2 separate regions of the Homo sapiens genome follow, and region 2 is linked to region 1. A link means that fine-mapping ties the variant in region 1 to the expression of a gene that starts in the linked region. Tissue or cell type: whole blood. Region 1 holds a variant in brackets; the other region holds the start of a gene. All regions are shown on one strand. Distances are from middle to middle.

Region 1 (8,181 bases):
TTTCATTCATCCGTTAAACCAGTAAATTATACTACTAATCCAATGATTCAGAGTTAAATCACTTCACTCCTGAAAGATTTACTTACTAGCCAGAAAGCTAGATATCCACTCTCAATTACTCCAAAAAGGGTTGTTGGAAGAACAGAATATACTGATAGCCTGTGTCCTAAGTTGAGGGATGAGAAGGGGGAATATAGCCTCAAGATGTGTTCTGACTGATCCCTACAGGGTGTTAAAAGATACTTTGAATTTGTTAGGAATATTAAAAATCAGAAGATTTCACAAGAAAATCTGGATTTCAGTTTAGCTTGGAAGATTTAGACAGGCTGGCATCACTAGGTCTGATTTCCCACAGGGCAACAAGTGGCTAGAATAAGTAGCTGCTGTCTTGCTTATAAAGACAGTGGCACACCATGCCAATTCTGCCACCTTTTCTTATAGGCCTGGCTCCTGCAGGCATGTGAGTTGCAGACTGGGGCTTAAATGTACTATCATAGAAATACATCCAGTACTGGCCAGGTGTGGTGGCTCATGCCTGTAATCCCAGCACTTTGGGAGGCTGAGGCAGGCAGATCACTTGAGGCCAGGAATTTGAGACCAGCCTGGCCAACATGGGAAAACCCCATTTCTACTAAGAATACAAAAATTAGCCAGGCATGGTGGTGTGTGCCTGTAATCCCAGCTAGTCGGGAGGCTAAGGCATGAGAACTACTTGAACCCAGGAGGCTGAGGTGAGGTGAGCCGAGATCATGCCACTGCACTCCAGCCTGGGTGACAGAGCGAGACTCTGTCTCAAAATAAATAAATAAATAAATATCCAATATCTATTAAGAGAAAAGTTAGAAAAGAGCAGTAAACTAGACATGTGCACAGACAAAGTGAGTACCTACAGACAAATGTCTAGAACTGTAATCCCAAACTGTTAAAGGGGGTTATTTTTGAGGGGTGGAAATGAAAGGATTTTTAAAAATTACAAGTAACACAAAAAACTGGATTGATGAAATCATAGCTTCTACAGGGTTACCAAGTTCCTTCTAGATGTTTATTATTTGTGCTAACGCATTTTCTCACTGTGAACAATAAAGCACTGTCCAGGCCCAGGCTCAATACACAAAATGAAAACAAAGACTTGAAGGCTACAAGAAAAATACTTTTCCATAACATAAATCAAGTATTCTACATCACAAATTCTGACAACTCTTCCATTATGCCAAGCTAAAAGCAAGAGACTACTAATTAACACAGTTATTTGGGGGTAAATAATTTATTCCTTTAGAACTTACTTTGATACCCTGAAGACAATATAATCCAGGGAGTTAAGAGAATATATGCGTTGTGCATTTGCCAGTATTCTAGGACAAAATTTTTTTATTCATAGAGTGTTTGGGGAAAAAAAACCCAATGAAATAATAAGGAAAACCTATTGCCAAGGTAGCTCCTTATACCAAGAAACAGGGAGTACATACCACAGGTTTGGTCAAATCCTTTGGAACATCAACGTGTAGGTTTGAAAACTGTACCCACTTCATATTGGTACTGCTATGTGTGGGGAAAAAAAGAGAAACCTAAGTAAAATAGCACAAGAACCTATTTTGTTCAATTTAGCACATCCAATTGTATACTTACAGAAGCAAGCCACCATTTTTGGCTGTATTGCCCTTAGAAGTGTTTACAGAAAAATTCCCCAATCCCTAAAGAAAAAAAAAGTAGGACATGTGTTAGAATTAAAGTCAACTACCAAACCATTCATAATTTCCACTAAAAACTAAAAGGTTACCTCATTATTTCAGACGAAGATACTGGGGTAACTAAAATGGCCAAATTAGATTGAAAAAAAAAAGAGGACAATGGTAGAGCTGATGATAAAAAAAAAAGCAGTCTCAAAATACTAGAGAATCTCTATTTTAAAGATTAGGAATAAAAACTTTTTCAAAAAAAACAATTCTCACATTTAAAAAAAGCTATGAATTATGTGGACATCAAGAAAAAATGTGACTTCATTTTCCCATTATTTTTTACAAATTAATTGTACTTCAGTATAATACTTATTTTGCCTGAATATCTTTAAGCAATAAAATATATTGTTTTTATAATTTGTTAAGAGTTGGAATAAAAATTCTGAAGTATCCCTCTTTTGATGCTTTCATACATCTTTTAAAGCATACATATTTCTTAGCTTGGCTGGGATAACTAGCTTATAATGAACTGAAATATGTGCTGTGACTTATACCCATCATTAACTACTGTGCCACATGCTACAACGAACCCACATTTCCAAATCCTTTACCATCAGCTCCCCCTGGTGGAACAAGACTTTCCAGTTTTAGGAAACAAACGATACTACTACATATAACAGCTGTTTTTTCCTTTCAACTTTTCTGAGATTTTGAAGTGTAACCTGAGAAAGTGGAAACACAATAGAATCCTTAAAAACACAATGAAGATGAAAATAAGGCCAGGTGCCGTGGCTCACACCTGTAATCCCAGCACTTTGGGAGGCCAAGGTGGGTGGATCACTTGTAGTCAGGAGTTCCAGAGCAGCCTGGCCAACATGGTGAAACCCTGTCTCTACTAAAAATACAAAAATTAGCCAGGCATGGTGGCGGTGCGGTTGTGATCCTAGTTACTTGGGAGGCTGAGGCAGGAGAATCGCTTGAACCCGGGAGGCGGAGGTCCAGGCTGGGTGACAGAGCGAGACTCCCTCTCAAAAAAAAAAAAAGAAGTTTAGCATAAGTGAAGTTTCATTAATACAAATGATTGTCACCTAAGTACGTTTTTGTTTGTTTTTTCAGGGTTTTTTTGAGACAAGGTCTCACTCTGTTATCCAGGCTGGAGTGCAGTTGCATGATCATGGCCTGGACCTCCCAGGTTCAGGTGGTCCTCCCACCCCAGTCTCCCAGATAGCTGGGACTACAGGCACGGGCCACCAGGCCCAGCTAATATTTTGTACTTTTGTAGAGATGGGGTTTCACCATATTTCCCAGGCTGGTCTTGAACTCGTGGGCTCAAGCGATCCTCCAGCCTCAGTGTCCCAAAGTGCTGGGATTTCAGGAGTGAACCACCACCTAGCCACGTTTTAAAAGCCTATTCTTAGCTTATTGTCCTTCCTCTCCTTACCCAAGATAGAGACAAATCATAACTCTATAATCTTCTTTGCACCAAAGGGGAAAAGGAAAAAGGAAATCAGGTACAACACAAAGTGGTAAGAGGTATGTGCCATTCTTCAGACAAAATTGCATAGAAAATTCCCTCCCAACAATTACACCAGTGACCCCACAATCGAGTTGTGCAAGAGGAGCAAGAATATTACACTTCTCAGTCACATTCTCCCACTATAAACCTCTGCTTTTTCTTTTCTTTTTTTTTTCTTTTCTTTTTTTTTTTTTTTTTGAGAGAGTCTTGCTCTGTCGCCCAGGCTGGAGTACAGTGGAGCATTCTCAGCTCACTGAAACCTCCGCCTCCTGGGTTCAAGCAAGTCTCCTGCCTTAGCCTCCTGAGTAGGTGGGATTACAGGGGCCCACCGCCACACTCAGCTAATTTTTGTATTTTTAGTAGAGACGGAGTTTTGCCATGTTAGCCAGGATGGTCTTGATCTCCTGATCTCGTGATCCGCCCACCTCGGCCTCCCAAAGTGTAGGGATTACAGGCGTGAGCCACCGTGCCCGGCCAAGAAGTTTTTAAATTGCATTTTTTCTTTGTATTTCTTGAGAGAGAGAGAGAGAGAGAGAGAGAGTGTGTGTGTGTGTGTGTGTGTGTGTGTTGGGGGAGTGGTGGTTTGGAAGGGAGGGCTGTCTGGGTAAATTTGTCTTAATAAAGCAGTTCAAAAATTTCAATCTCTAATACCATCTGACTTTTCTCAAGAACAGTGGTTTTCAGGCCGGGTGCGGTGGCTCAAGGCTGTAATCCCAGCACTTTGGGAGGCCGAGGCTGCCGGATCACTTGAGGTCAGGAGTTCGAGACCAGCCTGACCGACATGGTGAAACCCCGTCTCTGCTAAACATACAAATACTAGCTGGGCATGGTGACGCATGACTGTAATTCCAGCTGCTCGGGAGGCTGAGGTAGGAGAATCACTTGAACCCGGGAGGTGGAGGCTGTAGTGAGCCGAGATCGTGCCATTGCGCTCCAGCTTGGGCGACAAGAGCGAAACTCCGTCTCCAAACAAAAACAAAAACAAAAACGGTGGTCTCAAAGTGTAGTCTGAGGACGTCTGTGGGGTCTGAGACACTTTCAGGGGATCCGGGAAATCAAAACTATTTTCATAAAACCAAAACGTCATTTACAACTTTTCCACTCATTCTCTTACCAGTGTACAGTGAAGTTTTCCCGTGACAGCCTGAGGTGTGATATAGGAAAAGATTAAATACAGAAGCAGATTTGAATCTAGCTTTTATTAAGCCAGAAATTAAAGAGAGCTGCAAAAATGTAAAACATTGCTGCTCCTTACTCAGTTTGTTCAGAAAATATATTTTTCATAAAGTATTAGTTGTAACATGTAATGAGTTAGTGTTACTTTTAAATCAATATATATTCTTAAGTTTTATTTTCCAAAAAGCTAAATATAGATAGCAAAAACCCACAAAAACAAAAGCTCTCTGGAGTCCTGAACTCCGAAAGTGT[A/G]AAGTGGTCCCAAGGCCAAAAAGCAGGAGAACCGCTGCTGAAAAGTTTTTGCTCCTCCTGCAAATAACTGCGCAGAGGATATCTAACCCACTTCTCTGGCTTGAGACCTTCATCTAAATTTGGATGCCAGGAAAGCATCTCAATTTAGTTCCATGGGAAGAGTCTGATATCTTGCACCAGCTCAGCCTCTAATTTTCGCGAGGCAAATTTCCTGTCTTCTCTGAGCCTCAGTTTATTTTGCAAGCGTGAAAGGAGGGGTTTTGGAACATACGAAGTACAAAATCTTTTCCAGCTCTGACATTCTACGATTATTCTTGTTCCTATCTTTGCCTGGACTCACTAACTTATATTTAATTCCATGAGAGAATTCTGATAAAACTAGCCCCTTTCTCGTCACTTTCCTGTAAACGGCGCGAGGTGAGGGATAAATATCAGGAAAAATCCTGATGGGCAGAGCGGCTGGTGGCAGGGAAACTTAAAAGCAACTATCCCGGTCAGCCCTCCTAGTCTCCCTAGCCAATCCAGTACCTGCCAGAGGCGCCGGCACACAGCACCGAACGCTGTCCGCGCCGCCATCTTGCCGGTCCCGACCTCTCAGGATTGCTTCCGGGGTTACAGCGGCGTCCTCAGACCATAGAGTTCCGCAAAAGAAGAGAGTACATCCTCATGTTCCGGCGCTGGAACAACCATAGAGACATGAACCTGTGCTTTTTGGGGGCGGGACAGTTGGCTGGCCAGGCTGGTTTGGCTCCGGCCAGTGTCTGGATAGTTACCAAGCCCTATTAATGTTTTCACCTTTAAATTGTTGTGTGTGTATACACACACACACACACACACATTTATTTATTTACTTATTTTTTCCTTTTAGAGACTGAGTCTCACTCGGCTGCCCAGGCTGGAGTGCAGTGGCACAGTCATAGCTCACTGCAGCCTCAAACTCCTGCCTCAAGTGATCCTCCTGCCTCAGCCTCCCAAGTAGCTGGACTACAAGTGCGTGCCACCACAGCCGACTAATTTTTTGTTTTTTTTTTTAATTTTCTTGTAGAGACAGGGTCTCATTATATTGCTCTCGTTATTTTGTGGGCTGGTCTTGAATTCCTGTCCTCAAGTGATCCTCTGGCCTTGGCCTCCCAAAGGACTGAGATTACAGGCATGAACCACAAAGCCCGGACTGAAACTAGTGTATTGACACCATTTACTTCAGTACTGGAATAATGGGTGATTTATTTTCCTATTTTTGCATTTTTCAATTTTTTTTGCATTTTTCAAAATTTTAACAAAATCTATATTTAACAAGAAAAAGAAAAGTCGGCCACTACCATTGGGTCCAGTTGCCACTCAGTTACCTTATTGCAGCGGCTTTCTAATTATGGTTCTTAATCCTTTCTTCCTTCCCCACACCAATTGGAATTCCTGTGCTCCAACCATTTTGTATACCGCTGTCCTACTGATCTTTCTAAATTATTCATTTCCTTATGTTACTCTAGTATTTAGGAATTTACAATGGCTAGCTTCACTTACAACAAGCCAAAGTGTTTTGTCTAATTATTAATGTCCACCATAATTTTTTCCAAGTAAAAAGATGTATAACTGGGATTTGCTATAATAAAAACTTCTTCAGGCTGGGTGCGGTGGCTCACGCCTGTAATCCCAGCACTTTGGGAGGCTGAGGTGGGCGGATCACCTGAGGTCAGGAGTTCGAGACCAGCCTGGCCAACATGGTGAAACCCCATCTCTACTAAAAATACAAAAAATTAGTGGGGTGTCATCGTTGTGTGCCTGTAGTCCCAGCTACTCAGGAGGCTGAGGCACGAGAATTGCTTGAACCCGGGAAGTGGAGGTTGCAGTGAGGCAAGATCGTGCCACTGCACTCCAGCCTGGGAGACACAATGAGACTCTGTCTAAAAAAAAAAAAAAAAAAAGAAAAGAAAAGAAAAGGCCAGGTGCAGTGGCTCGGCTCACACCTGTAATTCCAGCACTCAGCACTTTGGGAGGCCAAGGCGGGTGGATCACCTGACGTCAGAAGTTCAAGATCAGCCTGGCCAACATGGCAAAACCCTGTCTCTACTAAAAATACAAAGTCAGGCATGGTGGTGTGCACCTGTAATCCCAGCTATTTGGGAGGCTGAGGCAGGAGAATCTCTTGAACCCGGGAGGCAGAGAGTGCAGTGAGCCGAGATTGAGATTGTACCACTGCACTCCAGTCTAGGGAACAGAGCGAGACTCCGTCTCCAAAAAAAAAACTTATTCCATTTGTGCAAATCTTTAAAAATTTATTTTTATTTTTCCTTTTACTTTCTCCTCATCTTAAAGTCTGCTTCTATAATACTATATTGTCTTTTTTGTGTGTGTGTGTGAGACAGTGTCTCGCTCTGTTGCCCAGGCTGGAGAGCACTGGCTTGATCATAGCCCACTGCAGCCTCAAACTCCTGGGGTTAAGTGATCCTCACACCACAGCCTCTGGAGTATCTAAAACTACAGGTGTTTGCGACCATTTTTTATTTTATTTTTATTGTTTTGTAGAGACAGAGACTTGCTATGTTGCCCAGGCTGGTCTCAAACTCCTGGCTTCCAGCAATCCTCTCACCTTGGCCTCCCAAAGTGCTGGTTTTACAGGTATGAGCCACTGCACTTGGCCCATTTGTTCACATTTCTAAGCTTTATTTCCCCAAAGTGCTTTCACATATGCATTTTAGCCTAATGGAAAACTCTAGCCTTATAATCAGATCTGGTTTCTAATCCCAGGCTTACCAGTTAGTTGAGTGACTTTGAGCAAGTTACTTCCTTACCCTCAGCCTCAGTTTGCTCATATGTCAAAAAAAAAAAAAAAAAAAAGATAACAGTAGTTCCTGCTTCCAATAGTTGCTTGGGAATTCAATGCAATACCAATATATGGTGTTTAGTACAATACTGCCATGTAATGATACACTATAGATGTCATCCACTATTTGTGCCATTAAGTTTCTACCTCACCTGCCTCACAAGGTTGTTGAGAAGATTAAAAATAAAAAGATCAAGTTTATGAGAATATTTTATAGCATCCAAATAAAGAACTGTACAAATATAAAGTTGTTTTTTTTTTCTCCCCACAAATAGTTATTACTACCCTATTTTGCAGGCAAGAGAACCAAAGAAGAGGCAGAATGATTTGCCCAACATCACACCTATCTAGGAGATAGAAAAGGTCTAGGAGCAGAAACCAGTTTTCCTGCCCCTCAGGCTGGCCTCTGTTTACTAGAATTCAGTCCGTGTTGAGGTGTGGCAGAGATTCCAGTGTGGCCTTGCAACAGGGTATGGAAACAGCACACTTCACCTGTGTGCACTTCTTATTTATTTATTTTTGAGACGGAGTTTCACTCTTGTTGCCCAGCCTGGAGTGCAATGGCATGACCCTGGCTCACTGCAACCTCCACCTCCTGGGTTCAAGTGATTCTCCTACCTCAGCCTCCTGAGTAGCTGGGATTACAGGCATGCGCCACCACGCCCAGCTAATTTTTGTATTTTTAGTAGAGACGGAGTTTCTCCATGTTGACCAGGCTGGTCTCAATCTCTTGACCTCCT
Region 2 (8,181 bases), 22 kb before region 1:
TAAGCCTAGTGCTTGGGGGTGCCAAGAGAAGAAAAACAAAAACAAAACCTGAAACCACTCACAAATCCCCACTCTCTAGATCTCCAGAGTCTTCCTCATTCTTTGTCCAGAAGCTTCTATTCCTACAACATCCTCTCTCAACATGATTCAGTTTCCATGACTCCTTGCCTTATATGAGACATATTCCAGAGTGATCTCTAGACAAGTGATCTCATCTGAGAGGTTACTGGAAACCCCAGGACCATTTCTGGGAAACGTCCAGCTGGGACTAATCTCATCTGCTATGCATGGGACCTTGTCAGCTCCAATTACCCACAGAGGCCTGAGAGTGATGGAAATGGCTCTGTCTACTCAGGAATAGGATGGGCGTGTCACCGGCTCTGTGGGATTATCTGCCCTGTTTCTCCTTGAATTGGCCATATTTGTGCACCAGCCCTGACTTCAATGCATGTTATATAAGAATCCTAAATGACATCTGATCTTCACCCTCCCCTTTCTTCCATTCCAGGCGGTCATAGGGCAACCACGAGAGTTGCAAGGGAGAGTGGCAGAGACGAGGTGTTCCTACCTTTTTGTCCCCACCAAACCGGTTTCCATCACCTCACATTTTCACGTGTGAACCACATCTATAAACACTTTTGATTGGATTTGCTTTAGAAATCTCAGACCGATTGTTCCGAAATGACACTCCTTGATATAAGGGGGAATGGAGTCAGGTGTAGGTTTGGAGACAAAGACTAAGTGGGAAAGAAGGCTCAGTCCCTGAGAGAGGAACTGAAAAACACTTTCTAGGGAGGCTCTTCCTTACAGTGGAATGCCAACTAATAAATAGAGAAGGGGTGATGGGGTTAGAAAATTATCAACAGATGCCAAAGCCAGTAGAAAATTTGACTGAACAATAGGATATTTACTTAGTCTCAAGATATATCCTTACATGTTGCTTATTAATTACAAAGAAAAAAATAGTAACTTTACAATGTTGAAACATGGCAGATACCACCTTAACCAAGTGATCAAAGTTAACTACGCCAGTGATGGGACAAACTGATGTCTTGTACCGGATGGTATGATGAACCGAGGACACAACATCACATCAGTGGCAATTCTACCAATTTAGACAAACGCCAGTTGTGGGCTGTCCTACAACATAACTCAGCTGCAGTCTTCAAAAATGTCACAGTCAAATAAAAAAGAAAAGCTGAGATTAAAGATTCCAGGTTAAAGAAGACTAAGGAGATACAACAAGTAAATGCAATGTATGATCATACAAAAAAAAAAAAAGAAAAAAAAAAAGAAAAAGGAAGGCCAGGCATGGTGGCTCATGCCTGTAATCCCAACACTTTGGGAGACCGAGGCGGGTGGATCATGAAGTCAAGAGATGGAGACAATCATGGCCAACATGGTGAAACCCCATCTCTACTAAAAATACAAAAATTAGCTGGGCATGGTGGTGCTCGCCTGTAGTCCCAGCTACTGGGGAGGCTGAGGCAGGAGAATCGCTTGAACCTGGGAGGTGGAGGTTGCAGTGAGCCAAGATCATACCACTGCACTACAGCCAGGGTGACAGAGCGAGACTCCAACTCAAAAAAAAAAAAAAAAAAAAAAAAAAAGAGAGAAAAGAAAAGAAAAGAAAAGAAAAAGGAAAAAAGAAAGAAACCTGGCCGGGTGCAGTGGCTCATGCCTGTAATTCCAGCACTCTGGGAGGCCGGGGTGGGCAAATCACTTCAGGTCAGGAGTTCGACACCAGTCTGGTCAACATGGTGAAACCCCGTTTCTACTAAAAATACAAAAATTAGCCAGGCATGGGAGTGTGCACCTGTAATCCTAGCTACTCAGGAGGATGAGTCATGAGAATTGCTTGAACTCAGGAGGTGGAGATTGCAGTGAGCTGAGATTGTGCCACTGCACTCTAGCCTGGGCAACATGGCGAGACCTCATCTCTACCAACATAAATAAATAAATAATACAAAAATTAGCAGGCATGGTGGTGCACACCTGTAATCCCAGCTACTTGAGAGGTTGAGGTGGGAGGATCCCTTGAGCCTGGGAAATCAGAGGCCGCAAAGAGCTGAAATCATGCCACTGGGTGACAGAGCGAGACTCTGTCTCAAAAACAAAAAAGAAAATACACACTGAAATACTTAGGGATAAACGGGCATGATATCTATAGCTTTCTCTTAAAAAAAGTATATGTATAAATTATGTATCATGTATATGTATATATACTTATAGGATACATTATATATATGTATGTATACAGAGAGAGGCAGAATGATAAAGTAAATGATATAAAATGTGAATAACTGGGGAAATTTGGATAAATTGCATATGGGAGTTACTTGTATCATTCTTATAACTCTTCTGTAAATTTAGAATCATAGTAAAATTAAAAAGTTATTCAAAAAGGAAAAAACATTGATGAACATCATATGCCGATTTATAAGAAGAGATGAGGTATAAGGAGTACAACTATATGCCTAGGGGCTTAATCAGCCCTTTGGATCTTGAATCATGATCGTATTGATTTTTAGATGAATCTGGGGAAGATTGATGGACTTAAATGAGTCTTATTATTTATGACCTGATATATTTGTTTACTTTTCTTACATTTTAAAAAAACATCAATTATTTTAAAAAGTCATCTTCTCTCTTTAAAAAACCTGCCTTCTAGGCAGGAGCACTTAAGACCTTGGGCAAATCGATTCATTCCCTTTTGCCCAGCTTTCTCATCATTTAATTTGGAATAACAAAAGTCTGCCCCTCCCACCCAGGGTTGCTGCTGATTCAGAGGAGACCTAAGAGAGGCGGAGCGCTGAGAAGTCCGAAACTGGCTCTGTGCCCTGTGGGGTGGTCGATGGGGTTCATCTCTAAGGAGGTTCTGTTGAATTGAAGGTGCTGACCTCACCCTCCTGTCCCGGGACAGGCACTGTGGGGACGTGCACTGACTGGTACCAGCGACAGGATGAGACCTGAAGTGGCATTCCCAGTGATTCAGCTTAGAAAGCTAAGTTCTCCACGCACTGAGGAATGGAGAACTGACACTTTCTTCAGATTAAATTGGTATTTGAGGCAAATACCAGGGCATTTGAGGTATTTGAGGTATTTGAGGATTGCCAGGGCACTGAACTGGATAACCTTAAATAATCAAGGGGTTTTTAACTGAATTGAAATTTAAAATTCAATCCCCTGGTGCATTTACAAGATGTGTTATCTTCTTAGCTGCTAGTGACATTGTGGGCTTAGAGAAACTCTAGTCTGAATGATTTAATGAAACCTTCCAGGACTTGAAGAGCTGAAAGGGGCTTTTGCAGTCATTCGCCCAGTCTCCCAATACATGCAGGAGCCTCTTCCAGCATTCTTGACAGGGAGGATCTGACCAGTCTCAGAAGAACCCCAACAAGAGGGAGCTCATAGCCCATGCTAAGATACCTTGTCTCATTTAGAACATCTCTTTTGCTCCTAGTGTTTAGAGTGACAGGGGCTCTGGCAGATGCGAAAACCCGGTCATTGGGCTGCAGAGTCTTGGTCAAAAATACACAAAGAGAGGACCTGGACTGTCTGCCAGTCGCCCTTCAGCTCTCAAGAAGAGGACACAGGGAGCATCAGCCGACAGCTAAGAGATGGAGGGAGGGAAGGAGAGACAGAGAAGATGGAAAGGGACAAAAGGAAGAGAAGAGACAGAAGGGTTTGGTGAGTGAGACAGAAAAGGTAAAGAGAGACGGAGTGGAAAGAAGAGCAGAGAAAGAGCCGAGGAGTGGGGAACTGGGAGCTCTCCCTGAGGACACTTGTGGAGGAAGGCGCCAGGTGGACTGGCCACTGGTCCTTCCCTTCAGGGTGCCTTACCCCATTCTTGTCGAAGGCTCGGAACATGCCCTCTACATACTGGGAGGCCTCCTCATCGTCTGTGACCTTGAAGAAGCGCTTAAACTCATGCATAAAGAGTGTGCCGCTGGGGCACTCCATCACAAACTTCTTGTACCACTCCTGGAGCTCCGCCACATCTATCTCGCCAGCTGCCTCCGCCTCCTCCCAGCTAAACTCCTGCCCCATGCTAGCCCTGAGGAGCATCAGGGAGCAAGGGTCTGTATCTCCTCCCTGGCTTCTGCTGATGGATCTCTCCAACTAGGGCCCTCTTCCTCCCTTTCCAGGAGGCCTGATCAGCCTCTCCATCATCTCCTGGGTGACTGAACATGATCAGTCGGTGCAGGGGGCAGGTGGCAAGGGAGGTGGGTCCAGGCCAGCTAAGCTGCCCTAAGACTATTAGAAGATTCCCCAGGTGGCCGGGTGCGGTGGCTCATGCCTGTAATCCCAGCACTTTGGGAGGCCGAGGTGGGTGGATCACAAGGTCAGGAGTTCGAGACCAGCCTGGCCAACATGGTGAAATCCTGTCTCTACTAAAAATACAAAAAATTAGCTGGGCATGGTGGTGGGTACCTGTAATCCCAGCTATTCAGGAGGCTGAGGCAGGAGAATCACTTGAACCTGGGAGATAGAGGTTGCAGTGAGCTGCGATCACACCACTGCACTCCAGCCTGGGGGACAGAGTGAGACTCTGTCTCAAAAAAAAAAAAAAAAAAAAAAAAAGAGATTCCCCAGGAAGTTCTGACCTCCAGCCTAAACTCCTCCAGCCTCACTCCTTCCCTTAGCCTTGTCAACAAAGCAACCAAGCTGGCCCTGGTAGACTCTGAAGAGGTAGAAGGGGAAGAAACTGAGAGGTAAGCAGAGAGATGCAGAGTGAAGAAAGAGTCGGGGTGCTAGGCTGGGATCCTCCCATCTCACTCACTCCCTATCTCTTTAGCTGGGCCTCACATTGCTTCAGGGAGGCCCATCTTGGAGACAGGAGACTCAAATCCAGAGAGGAAGTGAGATCAAGTCCTAGGCCATAAAACAGAATCTGCTGGTGATCTGGGACTCGCCCCTCAGACGGTCTAGTGAAAAGAGGCAGAATCTATGATGGGAAGGGCTCTAGGTGAGCAACTCTCTTCCCAGGCTAACTCGGTCCCTGAAGCTCCTTTCCAGATTACACCTTTCATCTTGGGAGCTTTTCACTTTCTGATTTAAACTACAAATGCCTCCCTCCAACCCTTCACACAAGACCTAGGGGTAGTGCCTTTTTCACATTTCCTCCAAAATACTAACATGTGAGAAGGATCTGGGAGCATGGCCTAAAATATCTTTGAAGGCTCTTACTTTTACATTATAGGTCATGTAAAATTTGCTTTTGAACAATTACATATTCATGCTTATTTTAATGTAACATAAAAATGACACCTCCAAGAAATCAAAAGACCAGGGACACACATTTTTCTTTTTCTTTGCTTTTTTTTTTTAAATTTCTATTTTTTGAGACAGGGTCTCGCTCTGTCGCCCAGGCTGGAGTGCAGTGGTGTGATCTCGGCTCACTGCAACTTCCGCCTCCGGGTTCAAGTGATTCTCATGCCTCAGCCTCCCGAGCAGCTGGGATTACAGGTGCACACCACAACACCCAGCTATTTTTTCTTCTTTTTTTTTTTTTTATTATACTTTAAGTTCTAGGGTACATGTGCACAACATACAGGTTTGTTACATAGGTATACATGTGCCATGTTGGTTTGATGCACCCAGCAGCCAGCTAATTTTTGTATTTTTAGTAGAGATGGGGTTTCATCATGTTGGCCAGGCTGGTTTCAAACTCCTGACCTCAAGTGATCCACCCGCCTTGGTCTCCCAAAGTGCTGGGATTATAGGCATGAGCCACCACGCCCAGTGACACTCATTTTTCTAGAAGACTTCAGAGGCAGCAGTTCCAGTGAATCTATCCTTAACCTACCCATCCCTCACTGGGTGTTCAGCCTGAATTGTTTTGCACATCTCCAGGCCTGACCTCCTCTCTCACTGTTCTCTGCCTCCAGACGTCACTGAGCTCTGAAAGCTCTTTTAACTTTCTTGCTATTCCTGAAGGAGAAATGTGATTTCTTCTGTCATCCTTTCAAGTGGTGGTGGGTTTTTCTCCCCCACACACACCTCAAGGTCTAGATAACAGGGCTAGTGTCCTCCTCGCTTCTAACTCTTGCCTCCAAATGGCCTTTTACTTTTTTCTCCCCAAAAAAGGCCAGTCCCTTTGAAGCCACATCTGACTCCTTGCCACTATTTACTTCTCCTCATTACTGTCATTCACTGGTGACTTCCCTGCTTGTCTCAAAGCATCATGTCAGTCATTTCAGTGACTGTGACCTCCAAGTGGATAAACAGCCCATCCCATACACTGGCCTCAAAGGTACTTGATCTCTCTCTCTTTTTTTTTTTTTTTTTTGAAACAGAGTTTTTGCTCTTTTCACCCAGGCTGGAATGCAGTGGTGCGATCTCGGCTCACTGTGAACTCCGCCACCCGGGTTCAAGCGATTCTCCTGCCTCAGCCTCCCTAGTAACTGGAATTACAGGTGCCTGCCACCATGCCCGGCCAATTTTTCTATTTTTAGTAGAGATGGGGTTTCACCATGTTGACCAGGCTGGTTTCGAACTCCTGACCTCAGATGATCTGCTCGCCTTGGCCTCCCAAAGTGCTGGGATTACAGGCATGAGCCACTGCGCCCGGCCCCAGTGAGATGTGTGGGGGTCACACTGCCCTCTTAGTCTCTAATTGCTGGCAACCTGGCATGGTCCCACATGCGTAAGCCACCGGGCCTGGCCTGGTCCTTGATCTCTTTAGTTCCAAAGAGCTTTTCTTCCACCTTACCTAGTACTTCCATTCACTTGTGGTCCCTGAGCCACAAGTGCAGCATCTGGGAGCTTGCTAGAAATGCAATGTCTCAGGCCCCACCTCAGACCTGCTGAATCAGGAACTGTGGGCTGGGGCCAGGAGTCTGTGTTTTAACAAGCCCTCCAGGTGCTTCCAATGCGTACTGAAGTTTGAGGATCACCACCCTAGGCCTTGCTGTCACCAATCTCTACTACCTCTGAAACATTCAAACGCTGCCGTCTGTTATCAGCACCCCACCCCTTCCATCTGTTACTGTAATACCTTCACTCCAATAATTCACTAATCTCATTGCGACTTCCAACCTGCTGATCTGTTTTTAACATCTGTCATCTTGCTCATCTCCTCACTCTCCTCCTTATCTTCATTCCATGGCCCAGCATTCTCTCCATTTTGACTTTTGTGCCCCTCTCTCCTCCTAACGCCTCACTTGGCCTGGCCCTGGTTAAGGCTGTTCACTAACTATGCAGTAACACTTTGCCTACAGTGGGGAGCCTGGACATCATTGGAGGACATCATAAATCATGCTGGCTGTACGCACTTCAGATCATGCCAGACAATCATACTACATACTCTTCCTGCCGAATTCCCTCTCCCCCTCTCTGAGATGACTATTCCACAGCGCTTCCTGCCCTCAAACCTTCCACTCACTCCCACACTGTTGCACACTTCACAGAGACAGATGAGGCAGTGACTCATCTTCCCACCAGTGTTTACCAACTTCTCTGTATCTGTGCCCATGTCCTCTGCCCCCTTCCGGTCTCAGTGGAAGCAGCGTGCCCTTCCCCTTGTCCCCGTCAACACCGCCACTTGTTTCCTAGATCACATCTCTCTTTACCTACTCGAAAGCTTCCTTCCCGCAGTTACTCCCTTTCTCTTCTGCAGCCTCCACTCATCCCTCTCTAATGGATCATTCCCGTCAGCATTCAGGTGTGCTGTAATATTGCCTTTATTAAAACAAGACAAAAATCCTTCCTTGACCCCACATTCAGGGCTACATTATGACATTCACGGGCCCCACACGTTTTTGCCTTCATGGGTCATAATACAAATACTGAAAAAATATTAAATAAGTAAATATTAATAATTATCACTGGTATAAAAAAGAACATAATCTAGACTCGGTGTTTCTTTTAAATTATGATTTTATTTTATTATTATTATTATTATTATTTTGAGACGAAGTCTCGCTCTGTCACCCAGGCTGGAGTGCAATGGCACGATCTCGGCTCACTGCAACCTCTGCCCCACCGGGTTCAAGTGATTCTCCTGCCTCAGCCTCCCAAGTAGCTGGGATTACAGGCGTACGCCACCATGCCTGGCTTATTTTCTATTTTTAGTAGAGACAGGGTTTCACCATGTTGGTCAGGCTGGTCTTGAACTCCTGACCTCAAGTGATCCACCCACTTTGGCCTCCTAAAGTACTGGGATTACAGGCATGAGCC

The links. PIP is the estimated chance that this variant, and not a neighbour inherited with it, causes the effect.
Region 2: it holds the start of GUCA1B, and the variant in region 1 is fine-mapped to the expression of GUCA1B in whole blood (TOPMed, PIP above 0.99).

Annotation. Positions count from the first base shown.
Region 1 is chr6:42,212,654-42,220,834 of GRCh38, forward strand. It overlaps MRPS10 (mitochondrial ribosomal protein S10), which reads right to left and starts at 5,208. Exons shown (of 7, transcript NM_018141.4): 1 at 5,149-5,208; 2 at 1,627-1,691; 3 at 1,467-1,539. The coding sequence starts at 5,196. RefSeq lists enhancers at 3,320-3,922, 3,923-4,524, 5,096-5,375. The variant A/G (reference allele first, on the strand shown) is at 4,621.
Region 2 is chr6:42,190,771-42,198,951 of GRCh38, forward strand. GUCA1B (guanylate cyclase activator 1B) reads right to left here and starts at 4,186. Exons shown (of 4, transcript NM_002098.6): 1 at 3,844-4,186. The coding sequence starts at 4,050. RefSeq lists a cis regulatory region at 6,677-7,629.